Linked DNA regions of Homo sapiens: all the other regions are linked to region 3. Evidence: fine-mapped QTL for protein levels in blood plasma. A gene starts in region 3. Each other region holds a variant in brackets. All regions are shown on one strand. Distances are from middle to middle.

Region 1 (12,226 bases), 10 kb after region 3:
CCTCTGTAGGCTCCACCTCTGGGGGCAGGGCACAGACAAACAAAAAGACAGCAGTAACCTCTGCAGGCTTAAATGTCCCTGTCTGACAGCTTTGAGGAGAGCAGTGGTTCTCCCAGCACACAGCTGGAGATCTGAGAACGGGCAGACTGCCTCCTCAAGTGGGTCCCTGACCCCTGACCCTTGAGCAGCCTAACTGGGAGGCACCCCTCAGTGGGGGCAGACTGACACCTCACACGGCCGGGTACTCCTCTGAGACAAAACTTCCCGAGGAACGATCAGACAGCAGCATTCACGGATCACGAAAATCCGCGGTTCTGCAGACACCGCTGCTGATACCCAGGCAAACAGGGTCTGGAGTGGACCTCTAGCAAACTCCAACAGACCTGCAGCTGAGGGTCCTGTCTGTTAGAAGGAAAACTAACAAACAGAAAGGAAATCCACACCAAAAACCCATCTGTACATCACCATCATCAAAGACCAAAAGTAGATAAAACCACAAAGATGGGGAAAAAACAGAGCAGAAAAACTGGAAACTCTAAAAAGCAGAGCACCTCTCCTCCTCCAAAGGAACGCAGTTCCTCACCAGCAATGGAACAAAGCTGGACGGAGAATGACTTTGACGAGTTGAGAGAAGAAGGCTTCAGACAATCAAATTACTCCGAGCTACAGGAGGAAATTCAAACCAAAGGCAAAGAAGTTGAAAACTTTGAAAAAAATTTAGACAAATGTATAACTAGAATAACCAATACAGAGAAGTCCTTAAAGGAGCTGATGGAGCTGAAAGCCAAGGCTTGAGAACTACGTGAAGAATGCAGAAGCCTCAGGAGCCGATGCGATCAACTGGGAGAAAGGATATCAGTGATGGAAGATGAAATGAATGAAATGAAGTGAGAAAGGAAGTTTAGAGAAAAAAGAATAAAAAGAAATGAACAAAGCCTCCAAGAAATATGGGACTATGTGAAAAGACCAAATCTACGTCTGATTAGTGTACCTGAAAGTGACGGGGAGAATGGAACCAAGTTGGAAAACACTATGCAGGTTATTATCCAGGAGAACTTCCCCAATCTAGCAAAGCAGGCCAACATTCAGATTCAGGAAATACAGAGAATGCCACAAAGATACTCCTCGAGAAGAGCAACTCCAAGACACATAATTGTCAGATTCACCAAAGTTGTAATGCAGGAAAAAATGTTAAGGGCAGCCAGAGAGAAAGGTCGGGTTACCCACAAAGGGAAGCCCATCAGACTAACAGCAGATCTCTCGGCAGAAACTCTACAAGCCAGAAGAGAGTGGGGGCCAATATACAACTTCTTAAAAAAAAGAATTTTCAACCCAGAATTTCATATCCAGCCAAACTAAGCTTCATAAGTGAAGGAGAAATAAAATACTTTACAGACAAGCAAATGCTGAGAGATTTTGTCACCACCAGGCCTGTCCTAAAAGAGCTCCTGAAGGAAGCACTAAACAAGGAAAGGCACAAACGGTACCAGCCACTGCAAAATCATGCGAAAATGTAAAGACCATCGAGATTAGGAAGAAACTGCATCAACTAACAAGCAAAATAATCAGCTAACAGCATAATGACAGGATCAAATTCACACATAACAATATTAACTTTAAATATAAATGGACTAAATGCTCCAATTAAAAGACACAGACTGGCACATTGGATAACGAGTCAAGACCCATCAGTGTGCTGTATTCAGGAAACCCATCTCATGTGCAGAGACACACATAGGCTCAAAATAAAAGGATGGAGGAAGACCTACCAAGCAAATGGAAAACAAAGAAAGGCAGGGGTTGCAATCCTAGTCTCTGATAAAACAGACTTTAAACCAACAAAGATCAAAAGAGACAAAGAAGGCCATTACATAATGGTAAAGGGATCAATTCAACAAGAAGAGCTAACTATCCTAAATATATATGCACCCAATACAGGAGCACCCAGATTCATAAAGCAAGTCCTGAGTAACCTACAAAGAGACTTAGACTCCCATACAATAATAATGGGAGACTTTAACACCCCACTGTCAACATTAGACAGATCAACGAGACAGAAAGTTAACAAGGATACCCAGGAATTGAACTCAGCTCTGCACCAACCAGACCTAATAGACATCTACAGAACTCTCCACCCCAAATCAACAGAATATACATTTTTTTCAGCACCACACCACACCTATTCCAAAATTGACCACATAGTTGGAAGTAAAGCTCTCCTCAGCAAATGTAAAAGAACAGAAATTATAACAAACTGTCTCTCAGACCACAGTGCAATCAAACTAGAACTCAGGATTAAGAAACTCACTCAAAACCGCTCAACTACATGGAAACTGAACAACCTGCTCCTGAATGACTACTGGGTACATAACGAAATGAAGGCAGAAATAAAGATGTTCTTTGAAACCAATGAGAACAAAGACACAACATACCAGAATCTCTGGGATACATTCAAAGCAGTGTGTAGAGGGAAATTTATAGCACTAAATGCCCACAAGAGAAAGCAGGAAAGATCCAAAATTGACACCTTAACATCACAATTAAAAGAACTAGAAAAGCAAGAGCAAACACATTCAAAAGCTAGCAGAAGGCAAGAAATAACTAAAATCAGAGCAGAACTGAAGGAAATAGAGATTTTAAAAAAACCCTTCAAAAAATTAATGAATCCAGGAGCTGGTTTCTTAAAAGGATCAACAAAATGGATAGACCGCTAGTGAGACTAATAAAGAAAAAAAGAGAGAAGAATCAAATAGACGCAATAAAAAATGATAAAGGGGATATCACCACCTATCCCACAGAAATACAAACTACCATCAGCGAATACTATAAACACCTCTATGCAAATAAACTAGAAAATCTAGAAGAAATGGATACATTCCTCGACACATACACTCTCCCAAGACTAAACCAGGAAGAAGTTGAATCTCTGAATAGACCAATAACAGGATCTGAAATTGTGGCAATAATCAATAGCTTACCAACCAAAAAGAGTCCAGGACCAGACGGATTCACAGCCGAATTCTACCAGAGGTACAAGGAGGAACTGGTACTATTCCTTCTGAAACTATTCCAATCAATAGAAAAAGAGGGAATCCTCTCTAACTCATTTTATGAGGCCTACATCATCCTGATACCAAAGCCGGGCAGAGACACAACCAAAAAAGAGAATTTTAGACCAATATCCTTGATGAACATTTATTCAAAAATCCTCAATAAAATACTGGCAAACCAAATCCAGCAGCACATCAAAAAGCTTATCCACCATGATAAAGTGGGTTTCATCCCTGGGATGCAAGGCTGGTTCAATATATGCAAATCAATCAATGTAATCCAGCATATAAACAGAACCAAAGACAAAAACCACATGATTATCTCAATAGATGCAGAAAAGGCCTTTGACAAAATTCACAACCTTCATGCTAAAAACTCTCAATAAATTAGGTATTGATGGGACGTATCTCAAAATAATAAGAGCTATCTATGACAAAGCCACAGCCAATATCATACTGAATGGGCAAAAACTGGAAGCATTCCCTTTGAAAACTGGCACAAGACAGGGATGCCCTCTCTCACCACTCCTATTCAACATAGTGTTGGAAGTTCTGGCCAGGGCAATTAAGCAGGACAAGGAAATAAAGTGTATTCAATTAGGAAAAGAGGAAGTCAAATTGTCCCTGTTTGCAGACGACATGATTGTATATCTAGAAAACCCCATTGTCTCAGCCCAAAATCTCCTTAAGCTCATAAGCAACTTCAGCAAAGTCTCAGGATACAAAATCAATGTACAAAAATCACAAGCATTCTTATACACCAATAACAGAAAAACAGAGAGCCAAATCATGAGTGAACTCCCATTCACAATTGCTTCAAAGAGAATAAAATACTTAGGAATCCAA[C/T]TTACAAGGAACGTGAAGGACCTCTTCAAGGACAACTACAAACCACTGCTCAATGAAATAAAAGAGGATACAAACAAATTGAAGAACATTCCTTGCTCATGGGTAGGAAGAATCAATATCGTGAAAATGGCCATACTGCCCAAGGTAATTTATAGATTCAATGCCATCCCCATCAAGCTACCAATGACTTTCTTCACAGAATTGGAAAAAACTACTTTAAAGTTCATATGGAACCAAAAAAGAGCCCACATCGCCAAGTCAATCCTAAGCCAAAAGAACAAAGCTGGAGGCATCACACTACCTGACTTCAAACTATACTACAAGGCTACAGTAACCAAAACAGCATGGTACTGGTACCAAAACAGAGAGATAGATCAATGGAACAGAACAGAGCCCTCAGAAATAACGCTGCATATCTACAACTATCTGATCTTTGACAAACCTGAGAAAAACAAGCAATGGGGAAAGGATTCCCTATTTAATAAATGGTGCTGGGAAAACTGGCTAGCCATATGTAGAAAGCTGAAATTGGATCCCTTCCTTACACCTTATACAAAAATTAATTCAAGATGGATTAAAGACTTAAACGTTAGACCTAAAACCATAAAAACCCTAGAAGAAAACCTAGGCATTACCATTCAGGACATAAGCATGGGCAAGGACTTCATGTCTAAAACAGCAAAAGCAATGGCAACAAAAGCCAAAATTGACAAACGGGATCTAATTAAACTAAAGAGCTTCTGCACAGCAAAAGAAACTACCATCAGCATGAACAGGCAACCTACAAAATGGGAGAAAATTTTCGCAACCTACTCATCTGACAAAGGGCTAATATCCAGAATCTACAATGAACTCCAACAAATTTACAAGAAAAAAAACAAACAACCCCATCAAAAAGTGGGAAAAGGATATGAACAGACACTTCTCAAAAGAAGACATTTATGCAGCCAAAAAACACATGAAAAAATGCTCATCATCACTGGCCATCAGAGAAATGCAAATCAAAACCACAATGAGATACCATCTCACACCAGTTAGAATGGCAATCATTAAAAAGTCAGGAAACAACAGGTGCTGGAGAGAATGTGGAGAAATAGGAACACTTTTACACTGTTGGTGGGACTGTAAACTAGTTCAACCATTGTGGAAGTCAGTGTGGCGATTCCTCAGGGATCTAGAACTAGAAATACCATTTGATCCAGCCATCCCATTACTGGGTATATACCCAAAGGACTATAAATCATGCTGCTATAAAGACACATGCACACGTATATTTATTGAGGCACTATTCACAATAGCAGACTTGGAACCAACCCAAATGTCCAACGATGATAGACTGGATTAAGAAAATGTGGCACATATACACCATGGAATACTATGCAGCCATAAAAAATGATGAGTTCATGTCCTTTGTAGGGACATGGATGAAACTGGAAATCATCATTCTCAGTAAACTATCGCAAGGACAAAAAACCAAACACTGCATGTTCTCACTCATAGATGGGAATTGAACAATGAGAACACATGGACACAGGAAGGGGAACATCACACTCTGGGGACTGTTGTGGGGTGGGGGGAGGGGGGAGGGATAGCATTAGGAGATATACCTAATGCTAAATGACGAGTTAATGGGTGCAGCACACCAGCATGGCACATGTGTACATATGTAACTAACCTGCACATTGTGCACATGTGCCCTAAAACTTAAAGTATAATAATAATTTAAAAAAAAAGAAAATGCAAACTAATCTACACTGACAAAAAAAAGTAAGTCAATAAATGTGATATACCACATAAACAGAATTAAAAACAAAAATCACATAATCATATCAAGAGATGCAGAAAAAGCATTTGACAAAATCCAGCATCCCTTTATGATTAATACCCTCAGGAAAATCTACATAGAAGGGGCATACCTTAAGGTTAGAAAAGCCATCTATGACAAACCCACAGACAACATTATACTGAATAGGGAAAAGTTGAAAGCATTCCCCATGAGAACTACCACAAGAGAAGGATGCTCACTCTCACCACATCTATTCAACTTAGTACTAGATATCCTAGCCAGAGGAATCAGACAAGAGAAATAAATAAAGGGCATCCAAATTGGTAAAGAAGAAGTAAACCTGTTGCTGTTTGTGGATGGTATGATTGTATACCCAGAAAGCCATATAGACTCATGCAAAAAGCTCCTAGAACTGGTAAATGAATTCAGCAAAGTTTCAGGATACAAAATGTACACAAATCATTAGCTCTGCTATACACCAACAGTGACCAAGCTGAGAATCAAATCAAGAACTCAATCCCTTTCACAATAGCTACAAAAAAATTAAATACTTAGGAATATACCTAACCAAGGACATGAAAGACCTCTACAAGGAAAACTACAAAACATTGCTGAAAGAAATCATAGATGACACAAACAAATGGAAACACATCCCATGCTCATGGATGGGTAGAATCAATGTTGTGAAAATGACCATACTGCCAAAAGCAATCCACAATTTCAACACAATTCTCATCAAAACGCCACCATCATTCTTCACAGAACTAGAAAAAACAATCCTAAAATTCATATAGGACCAAAAAAGAGCCCACATAGCCAAAGCAAGACTAAGCAAAAAGAACAAATCTGAAGGCATCACTTTACCCAACTTCAAACTATACTGTAAGGACATAGTCACCAAAACAACATGGTACTGGTATAAAAAATAAGCATATAGGCCAATGGAACAGAATAAAGAACCAAGAAATAAAGCCAAATATTTACAACCAACTGATCTTTGACAAAGCAAACAAAAACATAAAGTGGGGAAAGGACACCTTATCCAACAAATAGTGCTGGGATAATTGACAAGCCACATATAGAAGAATGAGACTAGATCCTCATCTCTCATCTTATACAAAAATCAACTCAAGATGGATCAAGGACTTACATCTAAGACCTGAAACCATAAAGATTCTAGAAGATAACATCAGAAAAACCCTTCTAGACATTGGCTTAGGCAAAGACTTCATGACCAAGAACCCAAAAGCAAATGCAACAAAAACAACGATAAATAGATGGGACTTAATTAAACTAAAAAGCTTCTGCACAGACAAAGAAATAATCAGCAGCGTTAATGACAACCCACAGAGTGGGAGAAAATTTTCACAATCTATACATCCGACTAAGGACTAATATCCAGAATCTGCAATGAACTCAAACAAATCAGCAAGGAAACCACAAACAATTCCATCAAAAAGTGGGCTAAGGACACAAATAGACAATTCCCAACAGAAGATATACAAATGGCCAACAAACGTATCAAAAAATGCTCAACATCGCTAATGATCAGGGAAATGCAAATCAAAACCACAAGGCAACACCACTTTACTCCTGCAAGAATGGCCATAATCAAAAAATTAAAAACTAATAGATGTTGATGGAGATGCGCTGAACAGGGAAGACTTCTACACTGCTGGTGGGGATGTAAACTAGTACAACCACTATGGAAAACAGTGTGGAGATTCCTTAAAGAGCTAAAAGTACAACTACCACCTGATCCAGCAATCCCACTACTTTCCCAGAGGAAAGGAAGTTATTTATTATTTATTATTATACAAAAAAGATTATTATTATTTGTTATGCAAAAAAGATACTTGCAGACATATGTTTATAACAGCACAATTTACAATTGCAAAAATGTGGAACCAACCAAAATGCGCATCAACCAACAAGTGCATAAATAACCTGATAAATACATATATGATGGAATACTACTCAGCCTTAAAGCAAATAAATTAATAGCATTTGCAGCGACCTGAATGAGATTAGAGACTATTATTCTAAGTGAAGTAACTCAGGTATGGAAAACCAAACATTGTATGTTCTCACTCATAAGTGGGGGCTAAGCTATGAGAATGCAAAGGCATGGGAATGACACAGTGGACTTTGGGGACTCAGGGAAAGGGTGGAAAGGGGTGAGGGATAAAAGACTACAAATTGGATGCAGTGTGCACTGCTCAGGTGACAGGTGCGCCAAAATCTCACAAATCACCACTAAAGAATGTACTCATGTGGCTGGGTGTGGTGGCTCACGCCTGTAATCCCAGCACTTTGGGAGGCTGAAGAGGGCAGATCACCTGAGGTCAGGAGTTCAAGACCAGCCTTACCAACAAGGAGAAACCCCGTCTCTACTAAAAGTACAAAAAAATTAGCCGGGCACGGTGGCCCATGCTTGTAATCCCAGCCACTCGGGAGGCTGAGGCAGGAGAATCGCTTGAACCCAGGAGGCAGAGGTTGTGGTGAGCCGAGATCGAGCCATTGCACTCCAGTCTGGGCAACAAAAGTGAAACTCTGTCTCAAAAAAATAAAATAAAAAAGAATGTACTCATGTAACCAAATACCACCTGTTCCCCAATAACCCATGGAAATCAAAATTTTATATATATATATATATATATATATATATATATATATATATATACACATATATATATATATACATATATATATATATACATATAATAGGTAACAGTTGTTTTATCATGATTAAATTGGTATCAAATTAATAGGTATAAGTGAAAAAACTAATCACTTACTAGTCATAAAAAAATGCAATAATATCATGCACTATGTATTACCAAGAAAGTAACTCAGATAAGCAGCAGATGATGAGAAGAGTATCCTGAAAATTCTGGATATATCCTTATGTATATCCTTAAAAATCACTTACTTCCCTTTATGTAATTTTGATTTTAATTTAAATGTCATGTATTTTCAGCTAACATTTAAATTAGTCTTTTGTTGTAAAACTTCAGTTGTTATAAATCATGAAACATTTTCAGAAACTTGCTTGGTGGTAGAAATAATTCTTTCCTTCTATTATATAATTATATCACATTAAATATTTATAAAATTATGTTTGAGAAATATATTCTGACCTTGAACATAATCAAATTCAAGATCAACATTATAATAGAATGAAGATTTATGGGGAAATGTTGCAATCAGTAAAATCTTTAAAGACCAGGTAATAGTAAAGAAGATACCCGTCTGAAATATTGCAGAGTGGTAGATATCACATTTTATCAAAGGACAGTAACGTTTGATCTTCTGTTTCCCACAGAACTCTGGATCCGGTTAACAGCAGGTAGGGAGAAGCAGCGGCAATATTTCAAATGTCCCTATTTGATCTGAGCAGGTAGAAAAAAATTGCATTCTACTTCAGGTAGTCTGTGAAATTAAGGTTCAGTTATTTTTCAAGATTGGGAGGACATCACAGTGTTGATTTTTTTTTTTTTTTTTTTTTTTTTTGAGATGGAGTCTCGCTCTGTCACCCAGGCTGGAGTGCAGTGGCACGATCTTGGCTCACTGCAAGCTCCATCTCCTGGGTTCACGCCATTCTACTGCCTCAGCCTCCCGAGTAGCTGGGACTACAGGCATCCAGCGCCACGCCCGGCCAATTTTTTGTATTTTTTTAGTAGAGACAGGGTTTCACCGTGTTAGCCAGGATGGTCTCGATCTCCTGACCTCTTGATCTGCCTGCCTCAGCCTCCCAAAGTGCTGGGATTACAGGTGTGAGCCACTGCACGTGGCCCGCAGTGTTGATTTTGTGTACAAAGTAGGATCTGTTCCAGTATACTCTAGTGAGATAATTCACACATAGAGAACAGTTAATTCTGACCTCATGAAAAAATTGCCCATATTTTGAGTAGGTTAGCTTGTCACCTTCTTTGCAAACCATGTGGTCATTTTCAATGTCTAATAAATCTTTAACCCTACAGCCTCTCTGGTTCCCAACTCATTGCAGATAGTATCCTCTACCATTAGGTAATTAGCTTTGTTGGCTGTCGGTATGTTATAAATACTCTCAGCAGATCGCTTTGGATGTATTTGGTAGATGTTTTCATTTCTCTTGAGAAGATCATCATTGTAAAGAGGCAAACTTGTCACCAGCCTTCCAGTGCATAACTTCATCGCACCCATTAACTGTGGACTCCCTGCAAACACAGTTGCAGCTGGAACTGGCCTTTTTATCCATGTCATAAGTTCCACTGTACCTGGGTCGTAGAATTCCTGTCACTCCGTTAATTGTGCCATTAATCTTGGAAAAAAGCTCTTTCTATAAACTGAGACCTACTATAGTAGGCACAGCCATGCTCAGGGAGAGACAACCACATTGGGTATACAGTTCTTAATCAGCACCACTTGAAAAGTGTCGTTCAAAGTTCAGAAGAACGTACACCAAATCCTGCTAACGTGCACACATAAGGAATCCAGATGTACTTCAAGCCTTCTATAACCATCACAAGAGAACCCAATAAAATAGTGTGAATTATGAAATAATTTCTCCAATAATGTCACCAATTCGTTCATCTTCAAGAGTAACAGCTTCTTTCAGGGATTTACCATTAATCCTCCTAAAAATAACTTGCAACATAGGAACAAAATAAATAATTAACACTAAAATATAAAAGGGTAATAAAGAAGACTGTGTCAATCACACACACACACAAAATCCTGAGATGGCCCCTGTAGAGATTCTTGACAGAGGAGCCAATTCATTGTAAAATTCTTAGCCATATTTGGTCCAAACTTAACTTCAAGGAATTTCAGCATGAGCCCGTTTTCTCTGTTTAGGACAAACATCTTCATTATAACATACAATGTCACTGTTAGAGTACACACCAAGTAAAAATTAATCACTTTCATTATTTTAGCTACAAAGTTTCCTTTCTTTAGATTCAGCAAAGGCACTTAGCAAGCATTGAGACTGCTACCAAACTTAATAAACAAGATACCAATAAAGGTTGATTCTCTAGCTGCAGTAAATATCCCAGGAAGAGAGAAAATACATAGATTTTATAAACTTCATAAACCTCATCACTTTGCTCCAGTGAAAAGATATCTAGCAGGAACAGAGTTATGGCTTGAAGAAACGGGAGAGTGGCTGTACTCCCCATCATCATAAATGTGTAAATTGAAGCACTCATCAGCAAGTAGCAAAACCTCTCTCCATAAGTATTTAAGTTGCTTTCTCATAGCCTGTAAGTCCAGTAACTTGGCATGCAAAATATGGTAGTGCCCAGTTTTCTCTTAAAGGAATGGAGTATTCAATTCTTGTATTATATCTACCCTGTTAATAATGACCCACGCAACAGTAAGCATTCCTGCTAGCCACGTTCCATTCATAAGCCAACTTGTAACAAACAAAGCAATAACATATATTCCTTACACTCCAAAAACAATGCCAATATAGAAATACTCCACCTCAATAATCTCATTGCTACCAGTGGCTTGATATAAAACGCTGGCAATAGGTTCTGGATATAGAAACATTTGCTACACTGCATTTATGCTATTCAGAGATACAGTTTTGTTATTGTGTGTCAGTTCATAAACACCTCTTTCAAATGAAGGCGCCTTTAACACATCTTTATGAGTAATAAATGCCACTGTCACCCTGAAATGTGATTTCCCGGTCAAGCTCCTGCCTGTTGGAAAACCAGAATTTCTGTTCGTGGTATACAGATAAGTAGAGATCATACATCATACCACCAGTAACTGCTGCAAGACAGCCAGTGAAAATCTTTGCAAAGCCTTGAAATCATACATGTCTTGGAGTTCCTTCAGAAACTGGAATGTCACTGATTTTCTCTTCTTTGGCAGATTCCTTATTTTCTGAAGATTTTGGCATTTTTCTTTAATGCAGCTCTACAATTGGTCCTTATTCATCTGCCTTTGTCCCCTCAGGGCGTGGGGCACCCCTCCAACTCCCTCCCGGCCTGGAGTTATCCTGCCTCCACCTGGCGGAACCCCCCAACCCTGGCCCACTCGTAGCCATCACGCCCCCACTATCTGACCTGCCCAATTCAAGGTATATTTTTGATGAAAAATGTTATAAATAAAGTAATTTTTTTTGAGACAGAGTTTCACTCTGTCACCCAGGCTGGAGGGCAGTGGTGTGATCTCAGCTCACTGCAACCTCTGCCTCCAGGGTTCAAGCGATTCTCCTGCCTCAGCCTACTGAGTAGCCGGGACTACAGGTGTGTGCCACCACGCCTGAGTAATTTTTGTATTTTTAATAGAGATGGGGTTTCACCATGTTTGCCAGCCTGTCTTGAACTCCTGACCTCAGGTGATCCGCCCACCTCACCCTCCCAAAGTGCTGGGCTTACAGGTGTCAGCCATCGCGCCCGGCCAAAAATAACTTTATATGGAAAGAAAATCTTGTATGGTAATTTCTTGCCCTAAAGTAAAATAGCTGATTGTTTAGGAAAGAGAAACGTAAGACAAGTCAGAAAGTCTAAGCATGCGGCAACCTATGTAAGTTGTAATAAGGTTC
Region 2 (12,226 bases), 45 kb after region 3:
TAAATTTCACATACATTAAGGTAATTCTTTGTGCTCTAAAACTCTATAGAATTTGACAAATACTTAACGTTTTGTATTCACCATTATATTATCACACAGAAGTTTCACTGCCCTATAAATTTTCCTGTGCCTCACCTATTTAACCTTCACTTCCTTCCCCAGAACCTCTGGCATCTACTAATGTGTTTAAGGTCTTTTAAGTTTTATCTTTCCCAGAATGTCATATAATTGGAAGCATATATTATACAGTTTTTTTTCTGGCTGGCTTCTTTCACTTCATAATATGCATTTAAGATTCTTTTATTTTCATAATTTGATATCTCATTTCTTTTTATTGATAAGAAGCTATTCCATTGTATGGATGCAACACAGTTTGGTTATCCGTTCACCTATTAAAAGACATCTTCCTTGCTCCCAGTTGTGGGTGATTATGAATCAATCTGTTACAAATATTTGCATGCAGGTTTTTGAGTGGACATACATTTTCAAATCAGTTGGGTAAGAATTTAGGAACGTGATTGCTGGATTACATGGTAAGATTATGTTTAGTTTTGCAAGAAAGTGTCAAATTATCTCCCAAAGTGGTTGTACCATTTTACATTCCCACTACCTGTGAATGTGAGTTTATTTCGCTCTGCAAACTTTCCAGCAGTCAGTATTATCAGTTATTTGCATTTTGAATATTCTAATAAGTGTGTAGCGGCATCTCACTGCCGTTTTAATTTCCAATCCCCTACTGACATATCATGTTGAGCACCGTTTCATATTTTTATTTTCCATCTGTATATCTTTTTTTAAGGTGTCTGTTCAAATCTTTTGCCCACTTTTGAACTGGGTTGTTTTCTTGTTGAGCTGTAAGAACTCTCTGTACATTTTAAATACAAGTTCTTTGTATATTTTGATATTATCAGATGTCTATTGTTCAAATTTTTCTCACAATTTGTGGTTTATCTTTCCTTCCTTTGAACCATGTCTTTAGCAGATCAGAGGTTTTCAATTTTAGCAAGTCCAACTTGTTAATTTTTTATTCCATGGATAGTGCCATTGAAAAACACATCATCAAACCCAAAGTCATGCAGATTTTCTCCTATTTTTTTTCAAGTAGCTTTATAGTTTGGCATTTTATGTGTATGTCTATTTTCAGCTAACTTTTGTATAAAGTGTAATGTCTCTGTCTAGGTTCATTTTTTTGCATACAGTTGTTCAATTTATCCAGCACTTTTTACTGAAGGCGGCTATCTTCTCTCCATTAAATTGTCTTTGCCCTGTCATCAAAGTTCAGTTGACTATATTTATGTGGATCTATTTCTCTTCTCTATATTCTGTTTCACTGATCTGTGTGACTATCTTCAATTGATAATATGCTGTCTTGATTACTATAGCTGTATAATAAGATTTGAAATTGGGTAGTGTCGTTCCTCCAAATTTGTTCTTCTTCTTTAATATTGTGTTGGCTACTCTAGATCTTCTGCCTTCTCATATAAAGTTTAGAATTAGTTTGTTGCTATCTACAATAACCTTCTGGGATTTTGATTGGGACTGCATTGAAAAAAGCCAGGGAAAATCTGTATTCCATTTTAAAAATTATTTTTAATTATGGTAAAATACACATTACACCAAATTTACCATCTTAGCTATTCTTAAGTGTTCAGTAAGTGGTGTTAAGTATATTCTCATTTAGCACGCAACCAAACCACAGAACGTTTTTATTTTGCGAAATTGAAATTTTATACCCACTAAACAAGACTTTCCCATTTCACCTTTTTCCCCTGGTAACTATCATTCTACTTTCTGCCTCTATGAATTTGTCTTCTAGGTATCTCATGTAAGTTGAATCATACAATATTTGTCTTTTGTGACTGGCACATTTCACTTAGCATAACTTCCTCAAGTTAGTCATTGACTTCTTATGTTAGTCTTGTATCCCATGACCTTGCAATGCTAACTTACTTCCATAAATTGGTTTGTTTTGTTTGTCAATTCTTTGAGATGTTCTACATAGAAAATTGTATCTTCTGCAAATAGAGTTTAATTTTTTCCTTTCTAACCTGTAACTTTTTTCTCGTTCTTGTGTTATTGCACTACCTAAGATTTCCAATACAGTGTTGAATAGGAGTGGTAATAGAGGACAACCCTGCTTTGTTTCCAAGCTCAGAAGAGCATGCCATTTTCATCATTCTGTGTGATGTTAGTTAGCTGTATGTTTTCTGTAGCAATTCTATGTTAAAGAAGTTTTACTAATTCATAATTTGCTGAGAATTTTTATCATAAATGGGTGTTTGATTTTGTCAAACTTTTTTTCTGAATCAATATAATCATATGGCTTTTCTTCTTTAGTCTGCTGATGTGCTAAATTATATTGCTCAGTTTAGAAACCTGAATCAGTCAGCCGGGCGCGGTGGCTCACGCCTGTAATCCCAGCACTTTGGGAGGCTGAGGCGGGCAGATCACCTGAGGTCAGGAGTTCAAGACCAGCCTCAACATGGAGAAACCCCATCTCTACTAAAAATACAGAATTAGCCGGGCTTGGTGGTGCATGCCTGTAATCCCAGCTACTCGGGAGGCTGAGGCAGGAGAATTGCTTGAACCTGGGAGGCAGAGGTTGCGGTGAGACGAGATCGTGCCATTGCACTCCAGCCTGGGCAACAAGAGCGAGACTCTGTCTCAAGAAAAGAAAGAAAGAAAGTTAAATCAGTCTTACATACCTGAAATAAATTCCACTTGGTCATGGTATAAAATGTTTTTACACACTGTTTGCTTTGATTTGCTAATATTTTGTTGATAATTTTTACATTTATGCTCATGAAAAATACTGGTCCATTGTTTTCCTTTCTTTGGTGTCTTTATCTGATTTTGACTAGGATAATGCGGGCCTCATAGAATGTGCTAGGAAGTGTTCCACTGCTTCTATGTTATGGAAGAAATTGTGGAAAACTAGTATCAGTTATTCCTTCAATGTTTGATATAATTTACCAGTGAAACCACCTGGACCTGATGTTTTCTTTTTTGGAAGGTTAATAATTAATGATTTAATTTATTTAATATATAGAACTGTTCAGCTGATCTATTTCTTCTCTGTGAATTTCGGCAATTTGTATTTTTCAAGGAATCAGTCCTTTCATCAAAATCATCCAATTTGTGAGCATGGATTTATTCATATTATCTTTTTATTATCATTCTAATGTCCAAGGGATGATTAACATTCTTTCATTTATAAAATTGATAATTTGTCTCCTCTCTGTTTTTCTTGGTTAGCCTGAATCATTAATTTTACCAGTCTTTTCAAAGAATCAGCTTTCGATTTTATTAATTTTTCTCTATTGTTTCTTGTCTTCAAATTCATTCATTTCTGCTCTAATTTTTATTATCCCTTTTCTTCTGCTTCCTTCAGGCTTAATTTGTTTGTCTTTCTCTAGTGTGCTAAGGTGGAACGCTGGGTTATTGATTTTAGCTCATTTTCTTTTCTAATGTAGACATGTTACTAAAACTTTCCCACTATGCACTCTTGCTGCACCCCACACATTTTGACAAGTGGCATTTTCATTTTCATTTGTCCTAAATATATAAAAACTTTTCTTTACACTTCTTGATTCCTTATTTAGAACAGTTTTTGTTTCATTTCCGAATATACTGTAATTTTCCAGCTTTCAGTTATTGATTTCTGGTTTAATCCCACTACGGTCAGAAAACATACTTTGTATGATTTCTATTAATTTTGTCAAGATACTATTTTTATTATGGTAAAAAAAAAGTGGATAACACAAAATTTACCATCTTAAGCATTTTTAAGCTTACCATTCTGGGTTTTTTTTGTTTTTTGGGTTGGTTTGTTTTTGTTTTTGAGACAGGGTCTTGCTCTGTTATCCAAGCTGTAGTGAAGTGGCATGATCTCGGCTCACTGCAACCTCCACCTCCCAAGTTCAAGCGATTCTCCTGTCTCAGCCTCCTGAGTAGCTGGGATTACAGGCATGCGCCACCATGCCTGGCTAATTTTTATATCTTTAGTAGAGACGGGGTTTCACCATGTTGGTCAGGCTGGTCTCGAACTCCTGACCTCGTGATCCGCCCGCCTCAGCCTCCCAAAGTGCTGGGATTACAGGCGTGAACCACCGCACCCAGTTACCATTCAGTTTTGCTAACAATATTTACATTGCTATGCAACCAATCTACAAAAGAAGTTTTTATCTTGTAGAACTGGAAATTTTTACCCATTAAACAACACCCCATTTTCCTCTCCCCAGATTCTCTAGTTACCACTGTTCTACTTTCTGCTTTTGTAAGTTTGACTATTCTAGATACCTTATGTAAGTGTAATCATACAGTATTTGTTCTTTTGCGACTGGCTTGTTTCACTTAGCAAAATGTCCTCAAGGATAGTCTATGTTGTAGCATATGTCAGAATTTCCTTCCTTTTTAACGTTAAATAATATTCAATTGTATATAACGTATTTTGTTTGTCCATTTATCTGTCAATTGACATTTGGGTTGCTTTTACCTCTTAACTATTGTGAATAATACTGCTTCAATATGGGTGTGCAAATATTTCAAGAGTCTGTTCTCACATTGCTATAAAGAAATACCTGAGACTGGGTCATTTATAAAGAAAAGAGTTTTAATTGGCTCGTAGTTCTGCAGGCTATACAGGAAGCATAGTGGTTTCTGCTTCTGCGGAGGCCTCAGGAAGCATCCAATCATGGCAGAAGGCAATGGGGGAGCAAGGCCAGGTGACTTGCTTTGGCCAGTGAAAGGTGAGTGAAGGGACAAGTCTTGGGACCCCTGTGCACTGTTTGCCACATCCCTTCCACCTGCCGGAAAGATGAGGTTCTCAAACTCCAGGGTACACTAGAATCACTCTAGGGGTTTGTTGAAAGCTGCTGGGGTCCACTCCCAGCATTTCTAATGCAGTATTGCTGTGGGCAGAGGAGTGGAGGTAGGGGGCTGAGAATTTGCATGTCTAACAAGTTTCTGGTGATGTTTATATTGTTGATCTAGAGAACACATTTTAGGAACTAGAGTCATAGAAGGATCCTCCCTGGGCCAGGGTCTCTGAGTGATACCTTCCTATTGAACCATGTTTAAGATGAAGGTTGGGTGGGGAATAAACATTTTTCTGTTCCCATTTCACTGTGGGATTTTGATGTTTATAGGTGAAAGAACATATCCCACACAGAAGCATAAATCTCTCACAACCAGCAGGACCTCGAGAAAGAAACACCATTTTGATTAGAGGGGCTTTAGTTTTCCCTGGGCTCCAGGTACACAAATCCACACGGAATTAATGGTGCAGAGCTGTAGAGAGGCTCTCAGCCATGTCCTAAGGCACATTCTCCTCAGTCCTCTCCCACCTGGTACATAGGATACCTACTTCCAGGGGGAAATCCAAGATTTCCTGGGAAGACAACTCCTTTCCCCTGTGCCTTCCACGGGTCCTGCCTATAGCTTGAGTTCACTCACAGAATCTGGTTTCCTATTGTTGGATATCAAACACTGTTGGAGCCAACAGAGGGTGGGACCTGTCTGAAACAAGACTCATCAGTGATCTTCCTGATCAGAGCCATAAACCTCTGGCCGGCAGTCAGCTGAAGGATTCAGGCAGCACTGGGAACAGCCACTTCACCTAGGAACTTGGAGATAGGTCAAGATAAGGAGGGCTGTAAATCTAACTCGGGCTCAGCTAGAGTCCTGGCACGTATGAGTATCATTTGTGCTACCAGCCCGGTCACCTACGAGGCATTCCTCTTCTTGTCTCTGATGTCCCGGTCACCTACGAGGCTTTCCTCTTCTCATCTCTGATGTCCCGGTCACCTACGAGGCTTTCCTCTTCTCATCTCTGATGTCCCGGTCACCTACGATGCTTTCCTCTTCTTGTCTCTGATGTCCCGGTCACCTACGAGGCTCTCCTCTTCTCATCTCTGATGTCCCGGTCACCTACGAGGCCTTCCTCTTCTTGTCTCTGATGTCCCGGTCACCTACGAGGCTCTCCTCTTCTCATCTCTGATGTCCCGGTCACCTACGAGGCCTTCCTCTTCTTGTCTCTGATGTCCCGGTCACCTACGAGGCTCTCCTCTTCTCATCTCTGATGTCCCGGTCACCTACGAGGCTTTCCTCTTCTCATCTCTGATGTCCCGGTCACCTACGAGGCTTTCCTCTTCTCATCTCTGATGTCCCGGTCACCTACGAGGCTTTCCTCTTCTTATCTCTGATGTCCCGGTCACCTACGATGCTTTCCTCTTCTTGTCTCTGATGTCCCAGTCACCTACGAGGCTTTCCTCTTCTCATCTCTGATGTCCCGGTCACCTACGAGGCCTTCCTCTTCTTATCTCTGATGTCCCGGTCACCTACGAGGCTTTCCTCTTCTTGTCTCTGATGTCCCGGTCACCTACGAGGCTTTCCTCTTCTCATCTCTGATGTCCCAGTCACCTACGAGGCCTTCCTCTTCTCGTCTCTGATGTCCCGGTCACCTACGAGGCTTTCCTCTTCTCATCTCTGATGTCCTGGTCACCTACGAGGCTTTCCTCTTCTCGTCTCTGATGTCCTGGTCACCTACGAGGCCTTCCTCTTCTCGTCTCTGATGTCCCGGTCACCTACGAGGCTTTCCTCTTCTTGTCTCTGATGTCCTGGTCACCTACGAGGCCTTCCTCTTCTTGTCTCTGATGTCCCGGTCACCTACAAGGCCTTCCTCTTCTTATCTCTGATGTCCCAGTCACCTACGAGGTTTTCCTCTTCTCATCTCTGATGTCCCAGTCACCTATGAGGCTTTCCTCTTCTCGTCTCTGATGTCCCTCCCTCCAGCGTGTATTTTCACGTCTCTCCTCGTCTCTGCTGCTTCACTTTTGTCACTTTCTCCAAGTCTTTTGGGTTTGTCTAGCTGCAGATGTTTTCTCTCATCCTCATCATTTATGCTTCCAGATCAGTTTTCCTGTCATTCTTATTCAGCTTTTATCTCTGTCACATTCTCTCTGAAAGTGTCGTTAAATATATATACATATGTATGTATATACATTTTTTTTTTTGAGACGGAGTCTCACTCTGTCACCCAGGCTGGAGTGCAGTGGCGCGATCTCAGCTCACTGCAAGCTCCGCCTCCCAGGTTCACGCCATTCTCCTCCCTCAGCCTCCTGAGTAGCTGGGGCTACAGGTGGACGCCACCAAGCCCGGCTAATTTCTTGTATTTTAGTGGAGAAGGGGTTTCGCCATGTTGCCCAGGCTGGTTGCCAACTCCTGAGCTCAGGTAATCCGCCCGCCTCAGCCTCCCAAAGTGCTGGGATTACAGGCGTGAGCCACCGTGCCCGGCCCTAAATATATTTTTAACCAACCCAGAAAAAATTAAAAAGTATATCCCAGGTGGCAGGTGAACTAAATACCTGGTTCACTTTATTTAACCTCGGGTTTGTTTTTGTTAGTGTTATGAAGACGTAGCTCCCCTCCTCCTAAGGCCTCATGCCCTTTTCTGTTAACAGTCCCTTCCAATGGGGCAGCCATGGTCACTATTGCCAGATGCAACTGTTTGAGGGAATGGAGAGGATTGTAATCTGAGGCTTCTGAAATTGTAAAGTGAAAGAGGAGATCTGGTAAAAGGGGCGAAGATCAGCTGAAGGAAGGTCAGATGTGAGTACAGCAGCAAC[G/A]GTTACATTCCCACCCTGGGCTGCAGAGGCAGGTGGGCTGCAGAGGCAGGTGGGCTCCTGGCCTCTCTCTCCAAGTGGAGTGGGAGGCTGAAACCATAGCAACACTGAGGTTAGCACACAAGGCAGGTGACATTAAGCAACATCCTCTCCTTCTTCCCTAAACCACAGCAGCCCCTGCGAACCTGTACAGCTCCATGAGCCTCCTCCAGCCTTCACTGCTGCCCCAGGCCCCCAGGCCCTTAAGAATTCCTGCTGGAAAAAAGCAGGCCGTGGCACAACTGAGATTTCCTTGTGTCAGTGTGAAGATGATCCAGCTCTTCTGCATGTTATTGCAGAAATCATAGAGACGAAACAGGATGGGGTGGCCTGGAAGGAGCATGGAAGATGAAGCCGCAGCTGAGGAAGAAGGCAGCTCTGCTGCTCCACTCTACCCTAGACCAAGAAGGTTCCTCTTTTCTAAATGGGGAAGAAACTCATTTTGACACTCCCTTCCTCCTATGTTTGAATAAATCAAGAAGCGTATCTGCACTGTGCAGTGAAAGCCACCTGCCTGCCTGGAGAAAGAGAAACTACTGCCCAGCACTCTGAGCTCTTCGACCTCTGGACGATGATCATCTCACACCCAAGCAGAAATATCCAGCAGCCCTCTGCTCCCTCCGGGCTGGGTCCTAACCAACTCTGGACTTGCTCAGGTTTCTCATGCTCCAACCCCTAACCCTGTCTGCAAACACATGCACCATTTCACATCATCCATCAGAACTCTTCGCATGGCCCAGCCTCCACTGCCAGCTGTATAATTTTAGTGCTTTAGATAACCTTAGAGGTTATCTACTGAGTCTGTCCACACTTCCGGCAGATTGGAACACTGAGGCCCAGAGGAGCTGAGTGAATTGTCCCTGTGCACATAACCCCTTGTGGCAGGGGCAGGCCAAGGGCAACCCTCTCTGAATAGTGTGGTCAGTGTTTTTAACACCGAAGCTCTCAAAAGAACTAATGTTTACTGAGCACCTAGAATGAGGGTGACCATATGTCCTAGATCACCCAAGTCAGTCCCAGGCCACACCTGCCCCCTTTCACACTCAGCTGTCCCAATTTAGACTATGCATCACGTATGGTCCCTGTACATATGTCTATTGTGTTATGTGTTGAGTGAGATGGAGTCAAGGATGATACTGACCCCTTCTTCTGAGGACTTAGGACCAACAAGAGACATGTCTACAACAACCGGCCCATTCTTCAGTAAGTCAAAAGAGCCATGGGGAACTTGAGAGTGATAAGGATTAATTCAGACTGGGCTAGAGAGGTGCCTGTGGTTGAATCCCAGCTCATGTGGACTTTTGACCACATGATCTGGTCCTCAAACCACAGGCAGCAGTTTGACAGTTTGAGAAGGGAGGAAACTTGTGCCAAGGGTAGCACAAGCAGAAGTAAGTCAGTAGACAGCTGTTTGGTGAAAATTTCCACATTCCAGGTCCTGAGAACACCAAGATGGGTGAGACACAGGCCCTGGGAGCTCAAGACAGATTTGGGAAGAGTGAGGATTGGGAGCCAGGCACCACTTCTCCAGTCTGAGACCAAGGGGCTGGTTCAGAGCTTCGGAGAGCAATGCCCAGCTGTAACCTCCCAGATTTTTCCTTGACTGCAGCCCTCATTAGTTATTTATTTACTTATTTTTAGAAATAGGTTGTCCCTCTGTCACCCATTCTGAAATAGTGGTGTGATCATAGCTCACTGCAGCCTCAAACTCCTGGGCTCAGGAGATCCTCCCACTAGCCTCAGGAGTAGCTAGGACTACAGGTGCATGCCATCACGCATTGCTAATTTTTTTACTTTTTGTAGAGTCGGGTTCTCACTATGATGCTGAGGCTGGCCTCAAACTTGGTCCTCAAGTGAGCCTCCCACCTTGGCCTTCCAAAGCATTGGGATTACAGCTGTGAGCCATTGCTCCTGGCCTGGTTATGTATTTTTCACTGCCCTGCACCACCTGTGCACACCTGCATTCCTTACCTGGAAGACCCACCCATGGCATTACAGTTTATAGTGTTCCTAACAAGGCCTACCACAGTGTTTGTACACTGAAAGATCCTGGTGAACATTTCTTAGTAAACTACACATATCCATTTGCCAGCCAGTGTATGGTCTCCTGGTTCCCTTATCCCAGGGCATGAGCAATGTGTTGCAGCCTGGGGCTCAGGAATGGTGAGCAGGCGTGGGTGGAGAAATTTATAAAGAGGCTGTGGAAAGGGAGAGGGAAAAGACACTAGGGAGGCCAAGGAAGGAGGTGAGCTCTGAGGAGAACAGGGTACATCTACATATCGAACATCTTACCTCCTGAGACCAGCTGCGCTGCAGACTTGAGCCAGCTCTCACACGCAATAGGTGATTCCGAGGACACACGGGAATGCAAGAGGCCCATGACAAGTACAAATAGGGTTCCATTCTGATGTATACACACCCCCACCCTTCTATGTGCAGTTTTTCAGGCCCTTCTGCAAAGTGCCCATGAGGCTGACCACGCAGGCTTGGAGGGTCAACACGCAGTGCGCGCAGGGAAATGCAGAGCCCAGGCTCTGCGCACTTTCTGGTAGCTGCTGCCCCCTGCTGACACAGCAAGACCTTGACAGCCCAAGAAGGTCATCTCCGCTCTTCCTGCCAGGCAGAGTAGGAGCATCTACAGATGGGTTGATTCCACACCCCACAAATACGTACAATTACAATATGTCAATTTTAAAAGATGTCTAAAGGCTGGAAGCATAACCAGGCATGGTGGCTCATGCCTGTAATCCCAGCAATTTGGGAGGCCGAGGTAGGGGGATCGTTTGAGCCCAGGAGTTTAAGACCACCCTGGGCAACACAGGGAAACCCCGCCTCCAAAATAATCCAAAAATTAGCTGGGCATGGTGGGACACACCTGTAGTCCCAGCTACTTGGTAGGCTGAGGTGGGAGGATCTCTTGAGCCGAGAAGGTCGAGGTTGCAGTGAGCCAAGATCACATCACTGCACTCCAGCCTGGGCTAGAACGAGTGTCACAAAAACAAACAAAAAAAAAGGCAAAGAGCAGTGGTTCAAGCCTGTAATCCCAGCACTTTAGGTCAAGGAGGGAGGACTGCTTAAGTCCAAGAGTTCAAAACCATTTTGGGCAACACTGCAATACATCTCTACAGAGAAAAAAAAAATTAAGTTAAAAATTAGCGGGGTATGGTGGTGTGCATCTGTGGTCGTAGCTACTAGGGAAGCTGAGACAGAAAGATTGCTCGAGCCCAGGAGTCCCACGCCGCAGTGAGTTATGATTGCACCACTGCACTCCAGTCTGAGCAACAGCGCAAAACCCTGTCTCATAATAAAATAAATATTAAAAATTAAATTTTTAAAAAGGCAGTGGGGTTGTCATGCTTGTCAAAAATCATATCCAGATGAGGAGGGAAACACAACCCTTTCATAGAGTCCACTTGCCTAGCGCAAGATGGGATGAAGCCTCCGTGAGTTAAGCACTCCGAGGCTGTGAAGAGGTGCTAACAGGAATCGCTGCACCTCAGATCCACTGATGTAGCAGCATGCCACACATGCCTCTATGCTCCCATTTTATAGGCGATAAAATTGAAGCGTCATGAAATTTGAGAATTCCCATAGAGATGTGATCCTGGGATTGTGCATCACCAGGTCCTGACCTCCAAACTGCTGTACTGATAAACCCACCTGATACAGCTGTGGGCTAAGAGAAGGGGCAAGAAGCAAAAGCACATTTCCTGAGCATCTGTTGGTGAGAGCCTGTGTCAGGTGTTGGGTAGACTGAGGCCCCAGCCCCACACTTGAGGAAGATGAAGATCAGAACAATTCATTACCAACAGGCCAATGTAACATGTAACATGACACAGTACAGGAATGGGGGATGGGGCCCTATGTCCCCCACACCTTGACCATCTCTTCCTCACCTTAAACAAAATTTCTCGACCCTCTTTGCTGGGAGAAGGAGCTAAGAAACAGTATTCCCACTTCTCATCTCTTCTTCCCAGCAAAACTTCCTCGGAGATGACTACCTCCACTTCCTCACCTCCTGTTCCTGTGAGCCCAGTGGTTCAAGCGTTTGGACTCTAGAGTCCAAGTGCCTAGTGGGAGCCGCCTCCGTTACCTTCAGCAAGGCTGAGTACCCCCCATTGTGCCTTATTTTCTTACCGTGGAAAGGAAATCATAGTGTTTATCTGTCCTATAACATTGTTGTAGAGATTAATTAGGGGCGTTCCTGGTACGTGAAATGCACTGGATGAGTACAAGTTACTACAACGAGGGTGGGAGGGAGGGAGCTCTTCGGCTTCTGTCTTCTTCTCCTTAGAAGTACCATTGGCTCTAACCTTCCTGGTCTCTCTTCCCGCCTGCCGCATCTTCTAGGTGATTTTGCAAGGAGAAACGCACGTGCATGGCATAGCCCTTCTTTTCTAGGGCTCTTCTGTACCAGGAGCCTCACAGGTCCTGCCTGCCAGTGACTGGGTAGGGAAGTCCAGCACTGTGTGTCATCTCAGAAAGCCCTTCATTAGGACTATAATACTGTATTATAGACTGAAAATTTGCTGAGAGTAGATTTTAGGCGGTTTCACAACAAAAAA
Region 3 (5,959 bases):
CACCTAGCAGAGAAACAGAGCCTGGGAGTGACCCCATAGCAGGACCCAGGGCCGTGCTCAACACCTCTGTGGGTAAGAGGGACCAGTGAAGCTGGGGCTCAAGGCAGGGCCCCCACCTGGGACATGAGAAGAAGTGGCATCTTAGGCCGTTTCACTAGGTACTTCCCACTGGCAAAGTTTTATTGCGGAATCTTTTCGACAGCCTGGCAGGGTCCTGCTATAATTGCTGTCATCTTCCACAGAGAAAGCTGGAGCCTAGAGAGGCTGTGAGGACACAAAACCACACAGAATGAAGAATGTCACACACAGAATGATGCACAGAACACGCACACACTACACACAAACCACACACACAGTAGCAGATGGCAAAACAACAAGAAAACTACATCCCCAGCCCACATCCTCCCTGAACTCCAGACTTCCCTCTCCTGAGCATACGACTGCCTAGGGCAATGCCAAAGGAGCAAGAGCCGCAAGAATGTCCTGGACTTGGCCGGGGAAGGACCTGAGCTGGTCCTGAATGCCCTTCCTGCGGTTTCAGCTTCTCCCAGGGCTCAGGCCCCGGCCTCGCAGTCCTCTCACCTTCTGGATCTGGCCTGGTGACTGTCCTACAGAAGGTGGTTCCCAGTAGAGGCTTAGGGCTGGTATGGGAGAGGCCTTATATAGCAGGTGGCTGTAAAATCAAAAAGCACAGCTGTCTTCTGGGGTGGGACCTCTGGGTCAGACAGGCTAAGGCTTCTGGCTCTCAGACTGTGCCCTGCCCAATAGAGCTACAGGCTGCCCAACCCTTTGGCATCTGTGCAGCTCGTGCCCTCTCTGAGACCTCTAGGAATTGGGAACAACTTTGGTCAAGGCCTGCCTTTGGCAAAATGTAAACAGGAGTAAGGTATCTTCCAGCATTGTCTGTGGCCTTCTAAGTCAATTCCATGACCTGCTAATGACAAGCACCTAACAACCTGCTAACAGTCACCATGATTAGCCCATTTATAGATGAGAAAACCAAAGCACAGAAAGAGAGCCATAAGAGATATGCTCATGGGCACACAGCCGGGGCACAGTCAGAACTCAGAGCTCCGAATCAGACTATGTGGGGTCTGTGCAACTCAGGAAAGGGCCTCAGTTTCCCACAGGCAAGTGTCTTAACCTTGTTAGATTTGAGGGTCCTCCAACCAAGATGAGTGTAAACTCACTGTGCAGCCTCATAGTGTGGTAGAGGGACCATGACGTGAAGCCCCTGCCTGCAGTGTGCTCTGCACACTGGGTGAGAGCCCACAGCAGCCATCGAGAGAGTCTTTCTGGCCAAGTGATCTGAGCAGCTACTGGTAACAGCCCAGGTCAGGTCAACTGAGGCCTCTCTGTATTAGTCAGGTTCTCTGTCCTCTAGAGAAGGTGAGTTTATATATGTATGAAGGGGAGTTCATTAAGGAGTATTGACTCACATGATCACAGGGTGAAGTCCCACAATAGGCTGTCTGTGACCTGAAGACCAAGGAAGCCAGTCTGAGTCCCAAAACCTCAAAAGTGCAGCCTTCAGTCTGTGGCTGATGGCCTGAGAGCCCCTGGCAAACCACTGGTGTAGGCCCAAGAGTCCCAAAGCCGAAGAACTTGGAGTCCGATGTTTGAGGGAAGGAAGCATCCAGCATGGGAGAAAGATGGAGACTGGGAGACTCAGCCAGTCTGGTCCTTCCTCGTTCTGCTGCCTGCTTTTATCCTAGCTGTGTTGGCAGTTGATTAGATGATGTCCACCCAGATGTAGGCTGGGAGGCTAGGCCAGTCTAGCCTTTTGACATTTTTCTGCCTGCTTTATATTCTAGCAGAGCTGGCAGCTGATCAGATGGTGCCCACCCAGACTGAGGGTGGCTCTGCCTCTGCCAGTCCACGGACTCGAGTGTTAATCTCCTTTGGCAACACCCTCACAGACACATCCAGGAACAATACTTTGCAATACTTTTCAATCCAATCATGTTGACACTCAATATTAACCCTCACACTCTCCCAGTCTCCTCACACTGTGCCATGGGTGCTCCTGGTTTTGAGTGTGGACTTGAGTTATCTTCCCTCCTCATCTTTCCACTGTGCTGACACTTTATACACACACGGTGGGGAGTGGGAGGAGCCCACTCAGCCGAGGATGCAGAGGTTGAGGGGCACACATCATACCAGTATCCCCCAGCCTGCATTTAAACCTTGCAGTTCCCTGCTCTTGAAAATACCCCTTGGGGATGGCTACGCTACCTGTGTCTCAGCTCTCTCTTCCTTCCCCAAACTCATGCATTCATTCAACAAACATTTTTTGAGCACCCTCCCTGTCTTAGGCCTACTGTAGGAAACCGGGAGGTATTTGTGAGCAAAAAGACAAAGACCTTTGCCCTCCTGGAGTGTAGTCTAGAGAGGACTACAGACAACATAAATTAAAGTGGTAAATAAGCAAATCACAGGGAAAGTCAGAATGTGGTGACTGCTCTGGCAAAAAGACAAAGAGTAGGATAAGTCATCAACCATGCTAGGGGGTGAGCAGGTGCAGGCTTCCACTTTCAATGAGGAGGTTGTAGTAGGTCTCATGGAGAAGACAAAATCTGAGTTATTTTTATAAGCAGAGACTCTGGCCATCTCTTATTCTCTCCTCTCCTCACCATCTGCCTTCAGGCTGCTTATCACAGCATTTTCCTAAAAAAAAAAAAAAGCAGCTTCCTCCCTAACAGAACCATATTGTTTCCCAGCACACATTAGTCAGTCACCTGGCAGGGCACAACAAGAGAAGTGGCACAGTAATATCCAATGGGGTGTGTGTGGGCTTGCGGGTTTCAGGAATGTGGCCTCCCTGAGCCACCGATGGAGGATCCAAAGAGCTCATGAACACTGCCTCTGAGATAACAGCTCTGGTGTCAGGCTGAGTACTGGCATGAGAAAATCGGGCTGATCAATGTTAATTCCTCTCAGAAGGCACCAGATACTCAGGCAAATGGACCCAAAGCGACCACAAAGATCTGAGTCTGAATCCAGACTTTGTCCCTCACATCACATAAGTTACTTATTAACCGCACTTGTTGGGCCAGAGCTCTTTGTCTTTAAAATGGAATCATCAGGCCCTGAAGAAATGCCTCCTGATGATTTATTTACTCCTGGAATCATCACCCCATTCCTCTGTGTTTTTCCAAGGCCATCTATCTATCAATAATGTCCTGAGGACGTCTAACCATGTGGGAATTATTATTAATAGCACGTATGATTTTAACTGAGCCATTTATCAGTAAGGACACTGAAGACAATGGAAGCCCCCTGAACTAGGCTGCGCAGTCTATACGGCTGCTCACAGCAGTCCTGGGTTCATCCTTTTGAAGCCCCGGCAGTGCGCCAAGGGTACCCCCAGCTGCCTTGACAGATAAGGAAACAGGCCCAGGGAGGCCTTCCCTATAGGCCTTCAGACGCCTGGGCCAGCAATCTTTCCATTTCAACATGGCTCAGGTGGGACGCAGCCTCCACCCGCAGGATTGGAGACATCGACTTGACTCCACTCCTCCCTCTCCCAGAGGTTCACCTCTCTGTCATTAATGTGGGGTCCAAGGACCTGAATCAGTCACAGGGAATTATGAAAAAGCACCTCTCTAAAGCCGACTCCTCCTGACTAGCAAAGAAGTCCAGAGACCCAGGAGAAGCTAAGTCGCAACAAGCAGCCCAACTTTTAAACTAAGAAGCCCTGGGCACACCGTAGGCACCCTAGTTCCATCATCTTCTTAGAAGGGGACAAGGTTGGCTGTCCCTACAGCCTGCTGAGCTGAGGCAAACCTGGAGCTCAGCTGAGTCCCAGTGAGTCATCCGGTGGTAAATCTGGAACCACTTTAGGAAACGGCCTTTTCCCAAAGCTTCCCTTGATGACCAGCAAAGCTTGGAGGTGAGTTTCCAGGGGAGCCTACCCCATTTTGGAATAAGCATGTGGAGGTGTGTAGGGTCAGGTCAGGGAAGCTGGGGCAGGAATTATATCCAACAGGAGTCTAAGCCAAAGACTCAGCAAAAGGATCAAGAGCATCCACCCCTGACCCGCCTTCTCTCTGTGTTTGCTTCTGGGAGCCTTTCATTGACTAGCTCATTCCTCCCGCTTGGAGATGTGAGAATAGGCTAAAAATAATGAATTATTGCCCCCAACATTCCTGCCCCCCAGTCACCTTGCAGAGGAAATGAGCATATCCTGGAAGATAAACTTCCCCAATAGTCCATGGCCTTATGTAAGATGATGATCCCCCCGAGTCTTGGGTTTCCCATCTTTCAAGTGGCAAAAACAGCACTACGGCCTGAGTAGCTATTCTGAGGGTCAAAGGAGGTCGCACAAGCCGACAATGATGATGAAACTATCACTTCATAAAGGGCTCTAAAAACAATGGCTACTACTGCTATCATTGTTCTCTGAGCTCATATCGGCAACTGCACAGCCCAGAGGGACATTCGCATCTGCACAGGGCAATGGTCTGAGGTGAGGTCCAGCCTCAGAACACACTTCTACCACAATTAGATACTACTTCATGCCCACTAACACAAATAAAATCAAAAAGAAAGAAAGAAAAAGAGACAGAGAAAGAAAGAAAGAAAGAAAGAGAAGGAAGCAAGGAAAATTGCGAGCATTAGGAAGGATATGGAGAAATTGGAACCTTCATACACTACTGGTAGGAATGTAAAATGGTGCAGCCACTGTGGAAAGAGTTTGGCAGTTCCTCTAAGAGAGTTACCCATGACACAGCAATTCCACACCTAGGTATATACCCAATATAATTGAATGAAAACAACTGTTTATACAAAAACTTGTACATGAATAATCATAGCAGTATTATTAGACTTAATTTACGAGTATATATATATATATATGTGAAAGTTACGGGTGCAACTTTATACCATAACTTTCTTCACATCTCTCTTCCCCACTTCTGGTTTCTTTTTGCCTTTTCAAGTAAATGATTTTAAAATGGCTTCCAAATTACACAAAATTATTTTTTATAAAATGCAATTTACAGAATTATATATTAATTAGAATTTTTATTTCTAGTAATCTTAAATTTTAGTGAAAATGGGAAGCAAGAAATCTGAACTGTATGTCAGATGTTAGCATTTTATAGATAAAATTATTTCACTATTTCAGAACCATGTTTTCTCATATAATAATTATTTACATTGGAAATGACCCAGACATTCAATAAGCATTTGTTATTTAATTTAAAATAATGTTAAGATTTTACATTACACAAAAAGTCCACTTATAGGTATTTATCTCATGTATATGTATTTAATTAATTTATTTTTTAACAATTTAGATTACTCTTGAAAACCAAGGTATTATATAAAGTTAGTCATTATTTAAAGTTATTTCCCTAATAACCACAGAGGTCAATATAAAATTTATTTAGACAGAAATGTATGCTGATGACTCTAAAGACATTTTTATTATTTTACTAATAATTTTTGAAGCCAGTTTTATTTGTCAAAGATTCACATGAACTTGAAAACCATTTAGACTTAATTTGTGAGTACTTGTTTACTTATATGCCAATTTGGTAGCAAGATAGGTGAAACGAAAAGCTGGTTCTTTGAAAAGATAAATGAAATTGATAGACCACCAGTGAGACTAACCAAAAAAAGAAAAGAGGGGATCTAAATCAGCTCAATTAGAACAAAACAGGAGATATCACAACCGACACCACAGAAATACAAAAGACCATTCAAGGCTACTATGAACATCTTTACATGCATAAACTAGAAAACCTAGAGGAGATAAATAAATTCCTGGAAATATACAACCCTCCTAGATTAAACCAGAAAGAAAGAAAATATTTGAACAGACCAATAACAAGCAGAGAGATTGAAATGGTAAATTTTTTAAAAAGTTGCCAATAAAAAGAAGTCCAGGACCAGACAAACTCACAGCTAAATGCTATCAGACATTAAAAGAAGAGGTAGGCACAGTGGCTCATGC

Direction of the effects. Positions count from the first base shown, and alleles are read on the strand shown. Strength reflects both the effect of a copy and how common the allele is.
With allele T in place of C in region 1, the plasma level of the protein whose gene starts at base 637 in region 3 is higher (strong association).
For the plasma level of the protein whose gene starts at base 637 in region 3, allele G in region 2 goes with a lower level than allele A (moderate association).

What was found. A credible set is the group of variants that fine-mapping cannot tell apart. PIP is the chance, under the fine-mapping model, that this variant and not a neighbour inherited with it causes the effect. Protein levels are from antibody-based Olink assays in UK Biobank. Linkage for the fine-mapping came from a reference panel and not from the study's own genotypes, which makes the PIPs less certain.
Region 1: its variant is the best candidate, but not a certain one, in a credible set for the plasma level of the LYPD8 protein (UK Biobank, PIP 0.88).
Region 2: its variant is the best candidate, but not a certain one, in a credible set for the plasma level of the LYPD8 protein (UK Biobank, PIP 0.78).

The regions. Positions count from the first base shown.
Region 1 is chr1:248,762,169-248,774,394 of GRCh38, forward strand. It overlaps the pseudogene DPY19L4P1. Among named protein-coding and RNA genes, the nearest start is that of LYPD8, 13 kb to the left of the region's middle. The variant C/T (reference allele first, on the strand shown) is at 3,897.
Region 2 is chr1:248,797,096-248,809,321 of GRCh38, forward strand. It overlaps LOC124904577 (a long non-coding RNA gene), which reads right to left and starts at 10,423. Exons shown (of 2, transcript XR_007067008.1): 1 at 9,954-10,423; 2 at 1,693-2,659. RefSeq lists enhancers at 5,550-6,749, 8,158-8,367. The variant G/A (reference allele first, on the strand shown) is at 7,626.
Region 3 is chr1:248,755,123-248,761,081 of GRCh38, forward strand. It overlaps LYPD8 (LY6/PLAUR domain containing 8), which reads right to left and starts at 637. Exons shown (of 7, transcript NM_001085474.2): 1 at 583-637; 2 at 117-264.